2 linked regions of the Homo sapiens genome follow. The protein of the gene in region 1 interacts with the protein of each later gene in a biochemical or structural test. Each region holds a gene or a part of one and is shown on either strand. Other genes may lie near its edges. The genes, in order: EIF5B and ETS1.

Region 1 (10,406 bases):
ATAATGTTATGTATCATAGTGTAAGTTTATTTTTATTTTTAAATTAAATATTTGAAGAACTTTTCAGTTTTAGTTTGTAATACCTGTAACTGGTAGATATAACCTACATACACAGAAGCCTTTTGTGTTCCTTAGGAATTTAAGAGTGTAAAGGAGTCTAGGACCAGAATTTGAGAATTGCTATTCTAACCTAACCACTGACACTCAGTTCCTTGGTAAAACAACACTCTGCCCACCTTATAGATCAACTGCAATACTGGAATAAACTTAGAAGCATAAATAAAGCACAACAAATGAGCAAGTAACATTAAAAGTAGCTGAATGAGTTCCCCACAGGGACAGCATGGAAGGCTAGAGAGGTTACTATCAACAAAAATCTATAATCTGTTTTCTTATTAATTTATAGCAAACTAGGACTTCTTCCCCTACCACTTCCTAAAGCGTCAGGATAGGAACAGGCTAGACCAAAAGAATTCTGATTATGCATCTTTTTTTGATGTAATTTATGCAGACAAGAGTTTCATTCAAATATATGCAAGTAAGAAATGAATTCCTTTATTAAACCTAGGCTATGTGTATTATATTTGTTTGATATGTGGATATTGAATCCTAGCCTTTGTCTCAACAAGTTTCCCGAGTCAACTGAAAAAGGTCAGGAAAACTTGCTGAACAAACACCACATCAAAATCTCATTCTTAGAATTACACAAACTGGGGCTGAGCGTGGTGAATCACACCTGTAATTCCAGGCCTTTGGGAGGCCAGGGTGGGAGGATCACTTGAGTTCAGGAGTTTGAAACCAGGCAGCCAACATGGTGAAACCCTGTCCCTACTAAAAACACAAAAATTAGCCAGGTGTTGGGCGCCTGTCATCCCAGCTACTTGAGAGGCTGAGGCAGGAGAATCGCTTGAGCCCAGGAGGCGGAGGTTGCAGTGAGTGGAGATCGCGCCACTGTACTCCACCCGGGGTGACAGAGCAAGACTCCATCTCAAAAAAAAAAAAGAAGATTTTTCACAAACTGGAACAGAATTCTAGAACTTGGTCTTTAAGCAAAATTCTAGAATTCTAAAAATACACAGACAAGAATAAATATCTTGATCACTGACACATGCTGTACAAATAAAATTAGGTAAGTTAAAATCTAATTTTAAATGAATACTGAGTGGCTAAGAAGTTAAAATAAGGATTAATTAAATATAAGAATTAAGGACAGTGAGTATTGTATGTTCTGTCCAAGAACTGAAAAGTGGCTCCATGCCTTCTCTTGATAACTAAATAAGCAGTTGTCATTTCTCACACAGTTCACACCTTGCCAGAAACATGCCTGACATAGCCAAGGAGGGGAGGTGGAATGACAGTAAAATCTTTAAAGTGTGGACCTTCACCCAGGAGAATAAAACCGGATCTCTATCTCATTTTACACAAACAAGAATACTAATCCTAAAATTGGACTTTCTCCCTCTAGATTTTCTTTCCAGTCTGTGTTTTTGTCCCATTTACAAATATTCAAAATATCCCTGAAGAAAGGAAAGAAATATTAAAATAAAGGTAAAAAGCTGACTCACAAAGCAGTGGAACTTCCCATTCCCCATCTCCCAATATCTCATGTGGAAGACCAAAATAAAAACCCAAGCAGTTCCAGTCAAAGGGAACTCTGCTAAAGCTCAGGATTTCTTAAACACAATCTGAAAGCCATTCATAAAAAGGAGTCCATGAGGCATTTATACACACACACACTCACAAAATGTATCAATTTCATATATTGGTATATGAGAAAATAAATGTTTTAAAATTATATTGCCACCACTTTCCCTTCAACATGAGCCAAAAACAAACAAACCAAAACAACAACAACAACAACAACAAAACACAGATTAGGTTGAGAGGGGGAAAAAACAGCATTTCTTCTACACAACCAAACCAATCATTTAACAACAGGGTCTAGTGTGCAATTTAAACTTTACAGCATCCCTGAAAATCTTTATAAATCAATGAGACACTCACTTTTCCCTAAAAAGACACAGACAAGAATAAACATCTTGTCTCCCAATGGCTTTTTTCTATTGTGAAAGAGCCTGGAAAGTAAAAAGTGTAAGTAGGGAAACATATAAGCCGGATCGCGCCTGTAGTCCTAGCTACTAGGGAGGCTGAGGTGGGAGGATCACTGGCCAGGAGTTCAAGACCTGACTGGGCAACATAGTGAGACTGCCCCTCCATCTCCAAAAAACAAAACAAAACAAAAACACATATATATGTAATTTTAATCTAAAGAACACATTTGTGTAATCCTAAACCAAACGAACGAATTGAAAAAAAAACTGTAATAAGACAATCAGGGAAATCAGCAAACTGACTGAATATTTGCTAATGTTTAAGAATCACTATTAATATTTCTTACAGATATACTTGGTGGATTTACAGATGAAAAGCTAATGAGATTTGCTTTAAAATATCTAGTAGGTGGGGGCCAGGGGCGATGGATCACGCCTGTAATCCCAGCACTTTGGGAGGCCGAGGCGGGCGGATCACCTGAGGTCGGGAGTTCGAGACCAGCCTGACCAACATGGAGTAACCCCGTCTCTACTAAAAATACACAACTAGCCGGATGTGGTGGTGCATGCCTGTAATCCTAGCTACTCGGAGGCTGAGGCAGGAGAATCGCTTGAACCAGGGAGGTGGAGGTTGCAGTGAGCCGAGATCGCGCCATTGCCCTAAGTTTCTTGTTGTCTGGGCAACAAGAGGGAAACTCCGTCTCAAAAAAAAAAAAAAAATGTATATATATATTTGTGTATATATTTGTATATATATATATTTATATATATGTGTGTATATATATTTGTATATATATATATATACACACACTTCTAGTAGGTGGGATGAAACCAAGCAGGTCATGTGCTAACAATGGTTGAAGGCAGGTAATTAATACATAAAGGCTCATTATACTCAGTTCTCTATTTTCTAGAGACAGCTGAACATTAGCAAGGAAAAAAGTACCCTATACATCAAAAATTCCTGTCAAAAGTACAGAAATTTGTGTTCCCCTACATCACCCATAATCCTTATTTTCTCATTCATCTGGTTTAACAATAATTCAATTCTCCAAACCAATTAACTTCCTCCAATAGACCTAAAACTGAAATACAAGACTATCTTTGTTGTCTTTTAATTCTACTCATAAGCTAGTCAAACGCTAGGTGAGAAAACGATCCAGGCTTCCAATTTATAATTAGTAAACTTATTTTAACTTCAAGACAACATATCTGTTTTGAGTCAGACTGATGAACTAGCACTAGTTTTTTTAATTTACCTTACTCTCCGCCTCGTATTTAAGTTTGGTGGGTAGTGTACGAACGTGTAATGTAACAGATGTTGTTCACTCCCAGGAAGTCAACTCTTTCCATCATGAGTAACAGAACTCAATCGAATGTGACACACAGAAATGTCTCAAAAATCTCTAGGTAAGTAACTCGCATATACCCTTATCCTCCCTCCCCAAAGCATTGCAGGTGGTTAGAAAGGAGCGACCTCGGTTGGTTGGTTTCTTCTTCTTCCCTTCCTTTCTTAGGGGAAGGCTAGAGAGCAAAGAAACGACAAAAAAAAACAGGCCGGAAGAAGGAAAGCGAAAAGCATGAGGGCTGGACAATCAGCCCTTAAATAAACGAAAACTGTATCCAAATCAGATTAAGTTGAGAGACAGCGAACTGCTAAACACCTCCCCATAACTCTAACGTACCTGAAACCGCGAGTAGAGAAACCCGGCCGTACATCACATTCAAGCTCCCTTCCCTCCCAAAGTACTCACAGGTATAAGAGGCATAAAAAGAACTTCCCCACCCTCGCCAAGAGTAGCGCGGAAAAAAACTCACACTGGCCTGGGCCACGCTGGCGAAGCCGCCTGACCCTCCCCGCGCGACCAGGAACCCTCAAATGACTACCCCGCTCCTCAGGCCGGGGAAGGGGTGCCGGGGGAGCGAGGCTCGACTGGGAGGACCCGCCCGCCGTCGAGGCCCTACGTGCCCACCCGGCCCGGGGGCTTGGGCCCGCTCCGCACACTCTGGGCCCAGGCCTGGTACCCCGCGAAGCTCATCGCGAGCCCAGACCCCGGTCCGACGCCGCGCCCGGCGAGACCCGCACACTCCACTGAGCCACGGCGGCCGCCGCCGTACGGACCCAACCCCTATCTACCTGTCTTCGCTCTTGTTTTTCTGTTTCTTCCCCATTGCTTGTCAATGGCGCTCGTGGCCCCAGCCCCTCTATTCGGTCTCTCACAGACCCACTGTCTCCCGGCTGACTTTGGTCTCCGCTCAGCTCTTTTCCCCTCGTGCTGCCGCCGCTCGCACCCGGCTCTCCACAGACCCGCGCACTGGAACAGGACACATATGGTGTGAGTTCTCAGTGCGCAAGCGCATCGCCCAGCCGCCTCGGCGTGAGGACGCAGGGCGCGGCTCATCGAGAGCTGCGCTTCGGGTAGAGCGTCTCCGGTTGACCGGCCGACCAGGCAGCAGCCCGAGCGCCCCCTGCCCTCAAGCGTCCGCCACGAGCCGACACCCGCGGGTTTTCCACGTTCTAGAACCCGGAGGTGGACAATGAAGCTGTCAATTTCGCCACCTCACCCCTCTCCCAACGGGGAACGCACGCTTCGGTTCAGGAGTGGGCTTTGGGCTTCCCTTTATATCTTTGTATTCTCAGCCGCACGAAGTTCAGTAAAGAACCACAACGAACCAATAGAGTCCTCTGGGGGTTTGCGAGAGAGATAAATTCAGGACAAAATAGGGACCTCTCAGTAACATCCATGCATTATGCATTATGTACAGTCACTGAATAAAACAGAACAGGACACAGCCGATCAATTCCCTAACATAGGTCTTCAGCTTCACCCTCAAAGCGAGGGCGAGTTCTAAAAATTCCTGTGTTTCGAAGAGTCAAGAGGGGACCTACAGGGGTGGTGGAAAATGTTCTATATCTGGATCTGGCCGGTGATATTTTGGGTTTTAACTATGCAAAAGTTAATTGTGCTGTATATGTTTATGCCTCGACTTTAGGAAAAATGTTAACAAAAGAAAACAAAAAAAAGAAAAATGTTCATTCAACACTAACAGAATGGAAACGCAGTTCAAGCGTCACGGCTGAGCGAGAGCACAGCTGTCTCATTTCCAGTCTGGCGCACTGGACCGTGAATACTGAAGCACGCTCCTGAGAAAGTCCGGCCACGACAGCCTGCGCACTAAGAAACTGCAACTCCCACAATGCTTTGCGGCCTTCCAGTTCGGCCGTGTACCCGGAGGAAAGCAAGGGTCGGACACCTTGGGTTCCGGGCTGCTGGGCGGGAGGCGCACGCGCAGAACTGTTCGCCACCCGACCGCCCGCCCCTTCCTCTGGCGTCCAAGGTGATATCGCGCGAGGTTCGCAGCCAATAAGGAGGCGGATGTGACGGCCCGTTTGCAGCCGCCGGCAGCTACTGCAAGGCAAAAGCCGGAGTGGACGTGTCTTTTGAAACTGCTGCTCTTTCACTTCTCAGGCGTCACCGAGAGCTCAGGTGAGGCAGAGGGTAGTGAGAAGAATCCGACCACCACGTCCGGGTGCTGGTGAACATTCTGCTGCTCCACATCCGGAGCGGAGGAGGGGCGCGGCCCCAGCACCGGTGTCGGTGTCCTGGCAGAGGCTCTTGCGCAAGCGCACCAGGAGGCGTCGAAGTTGGGGCCACCGGGACTGTGCTTTCCTCTGTTTCCCCGGGCGCAGGGAGTGGCCGGCTTGCCATTGGGGAGGTACCTGGGGTTCAGTTAAGGACCAGGCCCCTTGATTGTTTTGGCGGATACCTGTAAGGGTGTCCAGGAAATGACTAGGGAATTTGAGGACGCGCTGTGTCCCGTCCCACCCTTCCAGCGGAGCTGTAAAAAGGAAGAATCAGAGGCTGTGGTTTGAAAAATGAAAAGCTAACGAGGGGTTGCATCGTCTCTTTACCCCATTCTCAATGCTCTGACCACCAACACCTACACCCAGAATAGCTCTTCTTAATCTCGTCTTTTTCCAGTTATCCCATAATTAAATTCTGGGCTCATTCTATAAAGTTCCAGGGTAGGCATTCTCTGTGCTTATCCCTGGAGCACAGCTTCCAACGTTCAATTCAGTATCTTATTATCTTCTCCTTCCAGCCCCCTCACTGAGGGTCACAGTCCTACTGACATTTTTCTTGGGCGATAGGGAGCGTGGAAATCTTTGCTGTGTTTGAAATACAGCACCTTTCCAATTTTATAGCACTCACGAGGAGCTTACAATTTGGTTTTTTAGACTCAAATACTTTTGAAACTTAACAGTGTAGTAATTTGAACAGAAGTCAGGCACGTGTTCATTCAACGTTAAATACATGTTTATTGAGTACCTGCTGTGTTCTATGGAGATACAAAGATGAAATCAAGTATGCTTTTCAAATCCTTTTCCTGTAAAGAAAAAGGAATCAGAATTGAAGTTTGCAAGAATATTTCTCTTCAGCTCAACGTTTATAGAGGGCCTGTGTGGGTCAGAATCTGTGTCAGAAGCTGAGTGAATGAATTCACAGTTTGTTGTGAAGTTTGGGGTGCTTCAGTATTATTTGCAAATGTATCATAGTTCATTGATATGCAACAGCCTCCTGCTTTGATAGGCAAATTATAAATCATTTCTGCAGTAATAACCCTGAGATACACATAAACTTGCCCTCTAATTGTTGGTATAAAATTTCTCGTACAAAATACTCCATTTCTTTTAAAAGAAGTAAAATTTTGGCCGGGCGCGGCTGGCTCACGCCTGTAATCTCAGCACTTTGGGAGGCCGAGGCGGGCGGATCACGAGGTCAGGAGATCGTAGCCATCCTGGCTAACACGGTGAAACCCCGTCTGTACTAAAAATACAAAAAGAAATTAGCCGGGCGTGGTGGCGGGCGCCTGTAGTCCCGGCTACTCGGGAGGCTGAGGCAGGAGAATGGCGTGAACCCAGGAGGCGGAGCTAGCAGTGAGCGGAGATGCGCCACTGCACTCCAGCCTGGGCGACAGAGCGAGACTCCGTCTCAAAAAAAAAAGTAAAATTTTGTACTAATTGCTAGTACAAAATACTCCATTTCTTTTAAAATATATAGTCATGTGCCACATAAGGACATTTCAGTTTTATGAGATTGTAATACTGTATTTATCGTACCTTTTCTATGTTTAGATACACAAATGCCATTATGTTACAGTTGTCTGCAGTATTCAGTACAGTAACATGCTGTACAGATTTGTAGCCTAGGAGTAATAGGCTGTATGGCATAGCCTAGGTGTGTAGCAGGCTGTACCATCTGGGTTTGTGTAAATAGTCTATAATGTTTGAAACAATATCAAAATCACCTAATGATGCATTTCTCAGAATGTATTCTCATTGTTTTGTGGGTTTTTGGTTTTTGGTTTTTGAGACAGGGTCTGGCTCTGTTGCCCAGGGTGGGGTGCAAGTGGTGCGTTCTCAGCCCACTGCAACCTCTGCCTCCTGGGCTCAAGGTATCCTCCTCCCACTTCAGCCTCCCTAGTAGCGGGGACTACAGGCACACACCACCGGGCCTGGCCAATTTTTCTATTTTTAGTAGAGACAGGGTTCCATCATGTTTCCCAGGCTGGTCTCAAACATCTGAACTCAAGTGATCTGCCCACCTTGGCCTCCCAAAGTGCTGGGATTACAGGCGTGAGCCATAGCACCCAGCCTAGAATATATTCCCATTGTTAAGTGATGCATGACTAATTGAGATAGGTCTTCCTTTCTAATCTGAATTAGTTCTATTTTGAAACTCTGATTTTACACAGAGGAGTGATGTTGGAAAAAAACCCAAAATTTAGAAAAGTATTTGGAGTGTTTTACATCAAAGTTAACACTGTCAGTAAATGGAAACCAGTATTAATTTTTGTGACCTCATAGACTTTTTTGTTAGGTAATGGGAGAACAGGAATGGACATTAATGCTCAGGGAACACCAGGCACTCTTCTTTACATAAATGGTAATGAGACGTCTTAGGAGTTAAATGAAACTCATTTGGGCAGCAGCCATGAAAAAAATCTGTGTTTTGCTCAACTGTACTCTGTGTTTAAGTAAAGTTTAATATATATATTTATGTGTAAAACCTCAGTAGGTATACCTTCCTATTGTTCGCAGTTGTTTCTGATTTCTCTTTCCCATTGGTAAAGAACACTGATTGTCAGTATATATCACTAGGTATAACTTCACAACTCATTTCTCTGTGGTTTGGTGATGGTCTTAAAGACTTGTCTTGGCTTTAGTATAGTAAAACATATGCTAAATCAGAAGCACCCTAAATTTGCTGTAAGTAGTTTTTGAGTGGTGTGACTAGAACCTACTGAGAATTAAATTTAAAAACACATAAAAATTGTTAAGCCCAGCATCAAGTGCTTGGATGTCGTTAGAATACTCCATAGAGTACACATTATACACTTGCCAGAATTTTTGAAAATGGTAGAGAAAACCTTGCTTATTGTTTGCATTTTTTAAAATGTATTTTGTAAATCTTCTCCCCAGCACCCAGGCTGAACTCTGTACCATTTGGAAGAATGGAAGCTGATGCATCTGTTGACATGTTTTCCAAAGTCCTGGAGCATCAGCTGCTTCAGACTACCAAACTGGTGGAAGAACATTTGGATTCTGAAATTCAAAAACTGGATCAGATGGATGAGGATGAATTGGAACGCCTTAAAGAAAAGAGACTCCAGGCACTAAGGAAAGCTCAACAGCAGAAACAAGTAACCTCTCTGCCCTGCTTTCTGAAATTGCTATAACAGTATGCGCCTAACAACTTATATATACATGTGCTGTAGTAGTTACATTTCGTTCTTTGTGTTTAGGGTTTTTAAAATTCAGAATACCTATTACTGTTAAAAATTTGCCCAGAAAAAAATATGTTTTAAAGACATTCAAAATTAGCCCAATCTCTATATTAATCCACAGTCGAGTAAAAGAAAGATCTGCCCAAGATCGTTTTTCTGAGCTTGGATTTGTTTGGTTGAATGGAGGGCTAGGGAGTCATTGGTTTCCATTTCAGGTAATATTAAAGCCGATTTAGCTATTTTCAAAGCAAACGAGATAAGACAGATGAGATAAGAGCAATTAAGTCAATTTATGTTGAAAAATGTATTTCAGGCATTTCCAATGAAATAATTATGTGGCATATTCAAAAGAATGCATGCTTTGTAACAAAGGTGGCCACAGCTCTATCGTTGTTGCCTCTTAGAATGTTTGTGTAGAATAAACGCAGAGTTGTAAACTCTGACTGAAACCAGTGGATTAAATTCTGTAAATTGAAATTTTTTTTTCTGCTTTTTGAGATGGAGTCTCGCTGTGACACCCTGGCTGGAGTACAGTGGTGTCATCTCAACTCACTGCAACCTCCGCTTCCCGGCTTCAAGCAATTATTCTGCCTCAGCCACCCGAGTAGCTGGGACTACAGGCGCACACCACCATGCCTGGCTAAGTTTTGTATTTTTAGTAGAGATGGGGTTTCGCCATGTTGGCTAGGCTGCCCTTGAACTTCTGACCTCAAGTGATCCGCCCACCTTAGCCTGCCAAAGTGATGGGATTACAAGCGTGAGCTACCGCACCTGGCCAAATTGAATTTTGATTAAAACATTTTTTCCACTGGGTTACATGGAAATACTTTATCACCAACTCTGGTTCCTTTTCAGTTGACTGTGACTTAAACATGAGGCTTAACTTTTCTGAAGAAATAGGGAGTTTTGACCGGGCATGGTGGTTCACATCTGTAATCCCAACACTTTGGGAGTCCAAGGTGAGCGGACAACCTGAGGTCGGGAGTTCAATACCAGCCTGGCCAACATGGTGAAACCCTGTCTCTACAAAAAATACAAAAATTAGCCAGGTGTGGTGGCGCACACCTGTAGTCCCAGCTACTCAGGAGGCTGAGGCAGGAGAATCTCTTGAACCCGGGAGGTGGAGGTTGCCGTGAGTCGAGATTGTGCTACTGCACTCCAGCCTGGATGATAGAGCAAGACCCAGTTCCCCCACAAAAAAAGAGAAGGAGTTTTGTTTGTATTGCTGTAGCATCACTTTGATATGTTTACACCCTCATGTTTAGAAGAGTTACTACAAAAGGAAATAATCTTTTATAAGTGAGTCCAAATTTTTATATTTTGAGTTTCTAAAATAGAGTACGTTATATGGCTTTTACCTGTACCCTACCGTATTTTAAAAAATAGGCTGCTTTTCTTTTTCTTTTCTTTCTTTTTTTTTTTTTTTTTGAGAGGGAGTCTCACTCTGTTGCCCATCCTGCCTTGACCTCTCAAGTAGCTGGGATTACAGGTGCCTGCCACCATGCCCAGCTGATTTTTGTACTTTAGTAGAGATGGGGTTTCATCATGTTGGTCAGGCTGGTCTCA
Region 2 (9,675 bases), on another chromosome or scaffold:
GTGGTGAGAATGACTCTGAATTGGGAAATGGGAGCCTTGGGTCCACCCCGGCCATGCCATTGATAATAGCAGTCAATAGTTATTGAGTATAAAGTCTGTTCTAATCACTAAATTAAATACTTAGGTCTCACTACCTCTTTAATCCTCACAGTAATCCCTGAGGTGTACAGTGCCATTATCTTCATTTTATATATGAGGAAACCAAAAATCGGAAATCTTAAAATGTCCATGGTAACTGAGAAAGAACAAAGGCTGGGATTTAAATTGGGAAGTTTGATCTCAGAGGCTGTGCTATCACACTATGATAGCCTGTCGTCTTCATTGGACCGATAAAGTCATGTACTTAACTGTAAAATTTGGTTTTTTATTCTTGTTACAGGTGCAATACAACATTGTATAAAAATCAGAAAACACAAACATAACAAAAATACAACAAAAAATCTTCCATACCACCAGAAATAACCTCTCAATACTTAGTCGATTTATGGTTTTAGATTGTAAAAATGGCATTATGCTGTACACAATGTATTTTGAGCTGTCAAGCTCTAACTTTTTATATTTATCCAGTCCATAGTATGTTCAAGGGAGTGTGCTGGGGAGGCAGTTTATATGACTACTGGTGATAAGGAAATGTCAAGGGCACAGACCCTGCACCCCCAGAATCACATTCTAGTGGGGAAGATAAGGCAGGAAAGACGTGGACAGGAGATACGGGAACTTAAATAGCTCATTGTGACAACGCAGGAGCAAGACAATAGCTGCGTGGAAAAGCACAGGGAGAGAAAGAAAGGACTGGAGCTGGAGCTTAAGGGATGTCACAGGGGATTACGGGGGCTGGCTGAGATGATTGAGGCAGCTCCGAAGGGGCCAATCTGGAAAGACATAGCTGCTGAACATACTGCCGGATGCATGGTAGAAGGTCCCAGAACAATACATCGAACACAATCCCATTAAAAAGGCCCAGTATGGGTATAAGAATAGAGGAAAGACTGGAGGGCTGGATATCAAACCCTAAATAGTAGTTAGCTTTTTGGTGTGAGACTGGGTGGAAGGGGACCCGAAGTGGTGATTCTCATTTTTGAATTCATACCCTTCTGTATGACTTGAATATGCTACAACCGCATATTCATCCTGTAATTAAATTGAGATTGAAAAATAACTTTGTAGGAGTTAGACTGACAGAGAGAAAAAGTGAGAAGTATTTTGAGGGAGAAGGGACCAGGGAGACAGAGTGACAAAAAGTACATAGAAAGGAATGGGGGTGGAAGGAGGGGGTGGCAAGATATGGGGTTTTCAGTGGGCTATCATACATCCCAGAAGGGTCCGTTCTGCTGAAACTCTCTGAGTTTGTGGAGTCCACAGGATGTTTAGCAGGCCCAGTGGAACCAGGATGGAGAAGAATTTTTGACCGACATTAGCTAAGCTACTTTGCAGGGAGTCTACCTGGGGGCCTGTGCCCAGCTCATTCTACATTCTAGAGAGGAAGAAAAAACCAGAAAGTTGGTGCAAGGACTAATGGAGCAGCACATCAGGGGTTGTGGGAAGACTACGCCAAGAAATCCGGGTCTCCATAGGCTCTCTGGCACACACAGAAGGATGAGCACCTGTGTGCCAGATGTGTGCACACGTATGTGTGCCATTGCAGTCTCAGCTGTGGCTCAAGACAAAGGCTTTGCTTTTGATCATGGGAAGGAGAGAGAGTCATTGCAAAGTACAGGCTAAGAAGTTCCAGAGCTGGAGTGGCAATGCACAATGGTTCTCTGCTCTTTGCTTTATTTTCAGCATATTTTCTTTTTCTTTTCAATATTTGGTGATAACCACGCTTGTAATAGTATCTGGGTTTCACTCTACTTGGTTTTGGTAGTTTGTTTAGATACTGGTTCTCTGCACATATGAAGTCTTCTGAATTATCACGAGGCTTTTTTCTGAGATGGAAGGAAAGTTAATATGGAAAATGCAATACGTGTGTAATGTTTTGCTTTGCTTTTCCTTAAATTTAATGCCATTTTTAATTTCAAACTTCACACTTTTCCTGCAGCGGGTGGTTTTACAGAATCATTATAAGTTGCTTTGAAGGGGACTTCTGCACTTTAGGGAGTTGGGGTGGCAGTGAGGGAAGGTTGCTGGTGGGAGCGTTGAAGACCTTTGCAGAGCTAAGATTCTGGGAATTTACTTCCATTTTTCCTCTTAAGACATACTAACTTACAAGGTAACTTGTTATACTGAGAAAAGGAAAAAGGTTTCCTTACAGTAAGAAAAGCTATTCTAGAAATTCCTTCATGCTCTGTCTCACTTGTATCCAAACTATATTGAGACTACGATTGTTTAGGTGAGGCTACAGAGATACTCCTTCAAAGAAGCAAACAACTCATTTTGCATATCCCTTTTACATGGGATCAAAAGGTACCCATGTCCCTGGATCACTGAGTTTTAATTTTTTCCTTGAGAATCATAATGGTCATATTGCCCTATCAATTGAGGTCTTTCCTCATAGAGCTATCTATGGACATGGGAAAGAAAAGCATTGCTTCTACTGTTTACACAGTCATCTAATCGCATGGTGATTTCAGCAACCCTGTGAAGTTGGGCTGGTATTACTACACCCTCTTCAAGAGCCGGCATAAGGGAGGGGCTGGGGAGCCACCACCGTGCAGTGGAGGGATCCTCCAGGGATTTCATACCTTCTTCTTCTAGAGCATCATTTTCTTTTGTCCTATATTATCCATGTGGATCAGAAAGCATTCCTTCTGCGGAAGCCTACTGACTTCTAATGCTATATATATATTTTTTTTTTCCCTCGGGACAACATATTCTTTTATTGTGGTAGAATACATGTAACGTAAAATTTACCATCTGAACAATTTTTAAGTGTACAATTCAGGGGCATTAAGTACAGTCACATGTTGTGCAACCATCACCCACATCCATCTCCATTCCTTTTTTATCATCCCCAACCGAAGCTCTGTCCCCATTAAACACGAATTCCCCATTCTCCTTTCTCCAACCTGTGTTAACTTCTATCCCTTTTTCTGTCTCTATAAATTTTACTATTCTAGGTACTTCATACAGGTAGAATTACACAATATTTGTCTTTTCTGTATTTGGTTTATTTCATTTAGCATAATGTCCTCAAGGTTCATCATACTGTAGCATGTATTGGAATTTCATTCTTTTTCAAGGCTGAATAATGTTCCATTTTCTGTACATACCACATTTTGCTTATCCATTTATCTGTGGATAAATAGTTGGGGTGTTTCTACCTTTTGGCTATTGTGAATAACGCTGTTATGAACAATATTGTGCAGACATCTTTTTGAGTTCTTCTTTCAATGCTTGTGGCTATATATGTAGAGGTTGAATTGCTAGATCAAATGGTAATTTTATATTTAATTGTTTTGAGGAACTACCACACTGTTTTCTACAGTGGCTGCACCATTTGACATTCTCAGCAGCAACACACCCTTATTCCTATTTCTCCTTATTCTTGCCATTATTTTCTGTTTCTTTGATAATAGGAACCCCAATAGATGTGAAGAGGTACCTCACTGTGGTTCGAATGTGCATTTCTCTGATGATTAATGATGTTGCCCTTCTTTTCGTGTGTTTATTGGCCATTTCTGCATCTTTGGAGAAATGTCTACTCATGTCTTTTGTCCACTTTTAGATCAGGTTATTTGTTGTTGTTGCTGTTGAGTTGTAGGAGTTCTTTATATATTTTGAGTATTAAGTCCTTATTAGATATGTGATTTGCAATTTTTTTTCTCATTCTGTGGACTTCCCTTTCACTGTCTTAATAGTGCCCCTTGATGTACAACATTTTAAAACTTTGATAAAGTCCAACTTATCTATTTTTTCTTTTGTTGCCCAAGTTTTTTTTCCTGGGATAAGCTGTCATATCCCAGGAAATCATTGCTAAATCCAATGTCATGAAGTTTTCTTCTTTGATTTTTTCTAAGAATTTTATAATTTTCATTCTTATGTTCAGATCTTTGATAGATTTTTGTTAATTTTTGAGTATGGTGTAAGGTAGGAGTCCAATGTCATGCTCTTATATGTGGATACCCATCTAATGTTATATTTTTGAAAATACTGTTTAAAACAAAACTTACTGTTTTCCTGGGCATTCTCTAGGCAATTTATGACAGTGGTGGCTTATTTTGCACTATTAAGATTTCTAGTTTATGTTCTTCCACACCGTAAAAGGCCGTGTCAGAGGAGGGAGCTAAGGTCCTGAAGAGTTGCTTTCTATATAAACTCAGCATAGACAACTCCAGACTTCAGAACCCCTTGACAGCCACACTGTACACCCTTATAGAGCAAGAATCCAAGTCTTCTCAACTTTGTTTTTTTCAATTATCCTGCAAACATAGTGAATACAGTTGTAATTAGTTATGATTGGTATAATTGACCGTGGGCTCTTTAAATGGGGCAGTGTGCTGAAATTGACTGGGTTACAGGGGCAGGCTGAAGCTTCCCTAGCTCTCTTCATAGACTTCTTTTGTAGCATGTATTACATTTTTGGGGGGAGATCGTTGATTTATGTGTCTGTCTCCTCACTACAATGCAAACTTGCTATCTTTCTAGTGCCTAGAACAGTGCCTGGCACAGGCAATTTATTAAACTAAAGTGAACCAATAGCATTACCTCTTCCTTACTTCCAAGTTAATGTGCAAAGGCAGAAGATGAGCAGTAAAATCTTGCTTTACTTACAATGTCATCTTAACTGCATTGCCAGCTTTATACAATGAAGGCTGATGATGATATGGCTCCAAATGACAGTTATTAGATTTTCAAGGATTTTCTAAGTTTGTATCTTTATTAAAAAGAGAAAGAAGCCAACTATGACAAATCTTAACTCCCACCTCCTACTCAAAGAAGATGGAATCTTTTAGGATAAAAGTCTTAGATTAAGCAGCCAAATACTGACTTCTCAAAAAAAATTGTAATAACTCCATTCATAGAAATGAGATTATGCTGTAACATTCTTACCATAGTCCTGAATATGTGAATAAAAGATGCTGTGTATTTTCACTTAGGACAGATGTAAGATTTTCATATTGTTTACATTTTCCCTAAATGAGAAATGTATGAACACTTCTGCCCTTTTATTCCTGCACCACGGACCATGAGTCAGGGCTGCTAAAAGTATCCTTATTTTAGAGATTGCCTAAAACCAGACTTATATGAAAAGGGGATTTTTAGCTTTACTTTTCAGAAATCCCAAGTCCATATCCAGTCAGCTCTCTTCCACAAAATTATTTTCTTTTCTTTAGAAAATATCACATTTCATATCAAGTTATTAGAGAGAAACGGGAAGCCTGAGCAGGTGACTGGGTGGTGGACGTCCTGTGTTTCTAAAGCAATCCCTTTCCCTCACCTGAGACCTTGCCTAGGTTAATGGGGGCTCCATTGAGAAAGTCAAGGAACATGAAGCATGAATATTTACATATTCAGCAGAGAGTAAATGCATCAGCAAATGATGAGGTGAGATACAGTGTTATCCCACTGAACTAGTTCCCTTTTGCTCATCTCCCTCCCTGTTACTCTCCAAGGCTGAGTTATATTCAGCTGAAGCACAATTTGAAGAATACGAAATAATGTGTGATTTGGTGCCACCACTGTCAATCAACAGTGCTTTCCACCTAGACTGCTGTGCCTGTGCCAGTGGCTGCTGTCCTGGTGCCAGGGGCAAGAGGAAGACTGCCTTTTTTCCAGCTTTCCCTGGCTTGACCACACCCCCCAATTTAAGGAGGCAGCTCTATTAGAAACATTATGGTCTTTGCATCCTCTTAAGCTACGGAGCAGAGGATTCCCGCAGGTAGTTGGAAAGAGACCACAGACTTTGAGGGAAGCTCACTCAGGATCTGCTCTCCGGCAAAGTAGTAAGTGAGGTGTGTGTCAGTTTCTGCCTAAAACTTTTCAGTCCATTTTCCTTTTCCTGCTTTAAAAAAATTTCTGTGGAATTAAAGAGTAAGTCGGTAGGGAGATTCAGGATACAAGTGAGTTTTCTCTTTCTCTTTTCACGTCTTTCTATATTCCCATTTAATTGTTTAACAATTTTCAAAAATACTTCCTAACCTCGTCAGAATAGTCTGAAAGCAAGACTATGTTTTTAAAAATGTTCCCTGCTTCACAAAAGTAAAACCATGCACGTTTTAGATACCCGTAGATTACTTGTCAGAAACCCTGATTTTTTTTTTTTTTTTTTGCAAATTGGAGCACTTCCAAAGAAATAAAGCTGTAGTTAAATATATAAATTTCTTTTTATTCTCTTTCACTCCTAGTAAATCTATTGTTTTACTTTTTTCTCCTGCTAGTAGTTTAATGAATTGCTTTTAATAGAGAGGAAATTGCTACAGGTTTGAATCTTGCTAGCCAAACTAGCCTGTTTGGTGTTTTTCTCTGTCTTGGGACTGACCTGCAGTTGTCCAAAGATCTACAAGTTCCTAAGTCTGTTGTTGAGACATGGTGTGGGTGTGGGCCGCGGTTGTCTCAGAGTTAGGGAGGTATTTCTTGTCCCCACGGTAGAGCTGGACTCAGTGGCAGGAGATGTCGATGGCAATTCCTCTGCATCCGGTGATTTTATCTGGCCGTGACACTTTGTATGTGACTCCTCACCCACCGTTAAAGGTCTCTGTTACCAACTTTTAAAGTAGTATTTTCTTCAGGCAAACTTAAAAGGGTGCTGGGTCACTGAAATCAATGCATTCTATTGCAGGATTTCTTTATCACCTTTTGGGTAAGTTTTTGTTTTTAATCTCAAGTCCATTTTCCTTCTTACTTTAGACCACTGCCATGCAACTGAGAAAAAAGTATTTGTTAAACAGCAGGAAATACCAATTCTAAAATGATAACTCCATCAGCTCCATTTGATTTGTAAAATTACTGATACTATAACTCTTTCATCAGTTGTGGTTTTGGGTTTGGTGGCCTATTTTTATCCAAAGAGAAAACGCTTTTTCTTCAGGGGCCGTGGGCTGTGCACAAGGGCTGCAGGGTGGCCACTGCTGCTGTTGAGAGTCTTGCTCACCTGTTGTTCCTGAATGGAGGGAAGGGAGAGCTAATGGGTTAATGTCTGCAAAGTGCTTTGAAGATGAAAAGGTCTTTTCATGTGTTCAGTAGTGCAGTTATTAATATTAATATTTGAAGAAGCATGCTGCTTCTAATTGTAAATCAACTACTTCCATCCTTGCCAACTCAATAGTGAAATAACAAACAGTTCAGGCATCCATGCAGCCTCTTCCGTCCTGGTTCCGCTGCTGAGGATGTGGGAAGCCAAGCCGAGAGCCTAATTATGGAGGGGGCATCTTTGCCCGGCAGGCTCCTTACACGGAGGTGCTAGTTGCTGGCTGTGAAAGGATGTCCTGAGGCAGAGCCTGGGGGAAGCTGGTAGAGGGGTGGGATCCTTTGGCATCTGGCAGTCTGTGGCCAGAGCACCGACTTGGGCCAGTGGCCGGTCCCGGACGATAATGGAGTTCAAAGGCAAGTGGGGTCAGAACTTGAACCAGCGCTGGGTCGGAGAAGGGAAAGTGGCTGTGCACTTGGATTATGTCAGTGATTAGCTTTGTAACAGAGAACAGGGATTGAACGTGTCTGTGCCTTCTTCCCTTCATCTCTAAAAGGTGAGCAATCATTTGCGCCCCGCCTGGTTTACAAATATGAGAGAATAGAAGTAAACAGCATAGGGCTATGAAAAATCAGAGTGCCAGTGAGGTCAAGGACTGTCTGAAGTAATACTTCAACAAACTGGGTGTGTGGGTGCAGGTCCTCTCACCTAGGGGAGGGTGAGGCAGAAGGCAAAACACTGCAAACAAATAATCAACAGATTTCTCTCTTTGATTGCACTGGTGAATTTCTTACTGATAACTGAGGTTCTGATGTACCTTGTGATTTTAATTATTGGTGAATAGATCTGTTTTCCATAGTGACTATCATTTTCTAATTACCAGTTCAAAATTCCCAACTGTTCACATCAAACAGCAGAAGGGAATGATTACGTCCCACGAGCTGGGACCCTTCCTTCCTTCCTTGCTTCCTTCCTTCCTTGCTTCCTTCCTTCCTTCTTCCCTCCCTTCCCTCCCTTTCTATCTTTCTTTTCTTTTCCTTCTTTCTTTCCTCCCTCCCTCCTTTCTTTTTCTTTCTTTCTTTCTTTCTTTCTTTCTTTCTTTCTTTCTTTCTTTCTTTCCTTCCTTCTTTCTTTCTTTCTTTCTCTTTCTTTCTTTCTTTCTTTCTTTCTTTCTTTTCTTTCTTTCTTCTTTCTTTCCTTCCTTCCTTCCTTTCTTTCTTTCCTTTCTTTCTTTCTCTTTCTTTCTTTCTTTCTTTCTTTCTTTCTTTCTTTCTTTCTTTTCTTTCTTTCTTCTTTCTTTCCTTTCTTTCCTTCCTTCCTTCCTTTCTTTCTTTCTTTCTTTCTTTCTTTCTTTCTTTCTTTCTTTCTTTCTTTTCTCTTTTTTCTTCCTCTTTCTTTCTTTTCTCTCCCCTCCTTTCTTCTTCTTCTCTCTCTCCCTCTTCCCTCCTCCTTCCCTTTCCTCCCTTTCTTTCTTCATTATGGAAATGATAAAGTATTTAGCATTTGAGCAAAATTAATGTGGTATGCAGCAATTTAGTGGCATTTCAGGCAAATCTTTTAAGTTTCTTCAATCCTGGGAAAAATTAGATGTGAAGACATAACTTACTTTTTGCTTCCTCATCTCCTTTATCCCTGCTGTACTGAAAGTATAGCTTATTGAACTCCACCTTTTAATGTAGATGATTTTCTAGTTATCATATCCATTCTTCTTCATTTCACCTAAGGAGGAATACTCAGCCCTAACGTTTACTGAGCACTTGGTATGTTCCAACATCCTTGCTAGGTGCTTTGCAGGGACTGCTTCATTTAATCTACAATGAAGTTTTGAGGTGGGCACTCCACTCTCGTCATCCCCATTTACCAGGTGGGGACTCTGAGGCTCAGTCATATGACCGTGTTAACTCATGGTGGACCCTGATTAGAGCCAATGGAATGTGAACCCAGAGCTTGTGATTGGAACTGCATGTCATAGGAATCTAAGTAACTCTAAGACATTTACACAAATTTAGGATAGATTTTTCTGCTTAGACTGATTTGCTTATCTAGGAGAACACTGGATTAAGCCTGTTTTCTGAAGTGGTATCTGTGGATTACTTATTCATTGTTATGAAGATACTGACTTTGAAGAAAGACTACCCAGGCCTAGTTTCCTGGGTAAGTAAGTCAGTCCCTTCCCTGACAAATATCAGTTTTATTTCTACTCCATGCCCAGCCTTGTGCTGGAGACCATACCAAACACAGAAGAAACAATATGTAAACTCCATTTTTAAAATTAACACAATAATCTTTACTAGAAAAGAGGATAAAAATGAAAGACAATATAATTATTAAGTAGTGTAGTATAACCTATACATGCTTTGGGAGTTCAGGTAGAAAAAAATGGTATCTAGAGCAGTGAGGGAAGGATGTTTCTGATCTGCCTTTTTTTCAAAAGAGGATAGATTTCATATTCCAGTAATCAAGTGTTGGAGCTGCCTTCAGAACTTAGAGGGAACAGGCTGGGTAGTACTTACTAGCATGAGAGTAAGCAACAAACATTTAGTGCAAATGTCAGGAAAATATTCTCAATGGGGAGGAAAAAATATATAAATTTTCAAGAGATGTGGAAA

Evidence for each region.
Region 2: the proteins of EIF5B (region 1) and ETS1 form a complex in vitro, tested with the Homo sapiens proteins (one study listed by BioGRID).

Annotation. Positions count from the first base shown.
Region 1 is NC_000002.12:99,331,372-99,341,777, reverse strand, and holds the start of EIF5B (eukaryotic translation initiation factor 5B), read right to left. Parts: upstream 4,390-10,406; 5' UTR 4,224-4,389; coding exon 4,189-4,223; intron 1-4,188. Other genes in the region: TXNDC9 (thioredoxin domain-containing protein 9), read left to right, coding at 8,568-8,756. UniProt on the Homo sapiens protein: Plays a role in translation initiation.
Region 2 is NC_000011.10:128,583,704-128,593,378, reverse strand, and holds the start of ETS1 (protein C-ets-1), read left to right. Parts: upstream 1-5,820; 5' UTR 5,821-5,891; exon of another isoform or gene 5,892-6,702; coding exon of another isoform or gene 6,703-6,739; exon of another isoform or gene 6,740-7,039; intron 7,040-8,450; exon of another isoform or gene 8,451-9,675. UniProt on the Homo sapiens protein: Transcription factor. Directly controls the expression of cytokine and chemokine genes in a wide variety of different cellular contexts. May control the differentiation, survival and proliferation of lymphoid cells.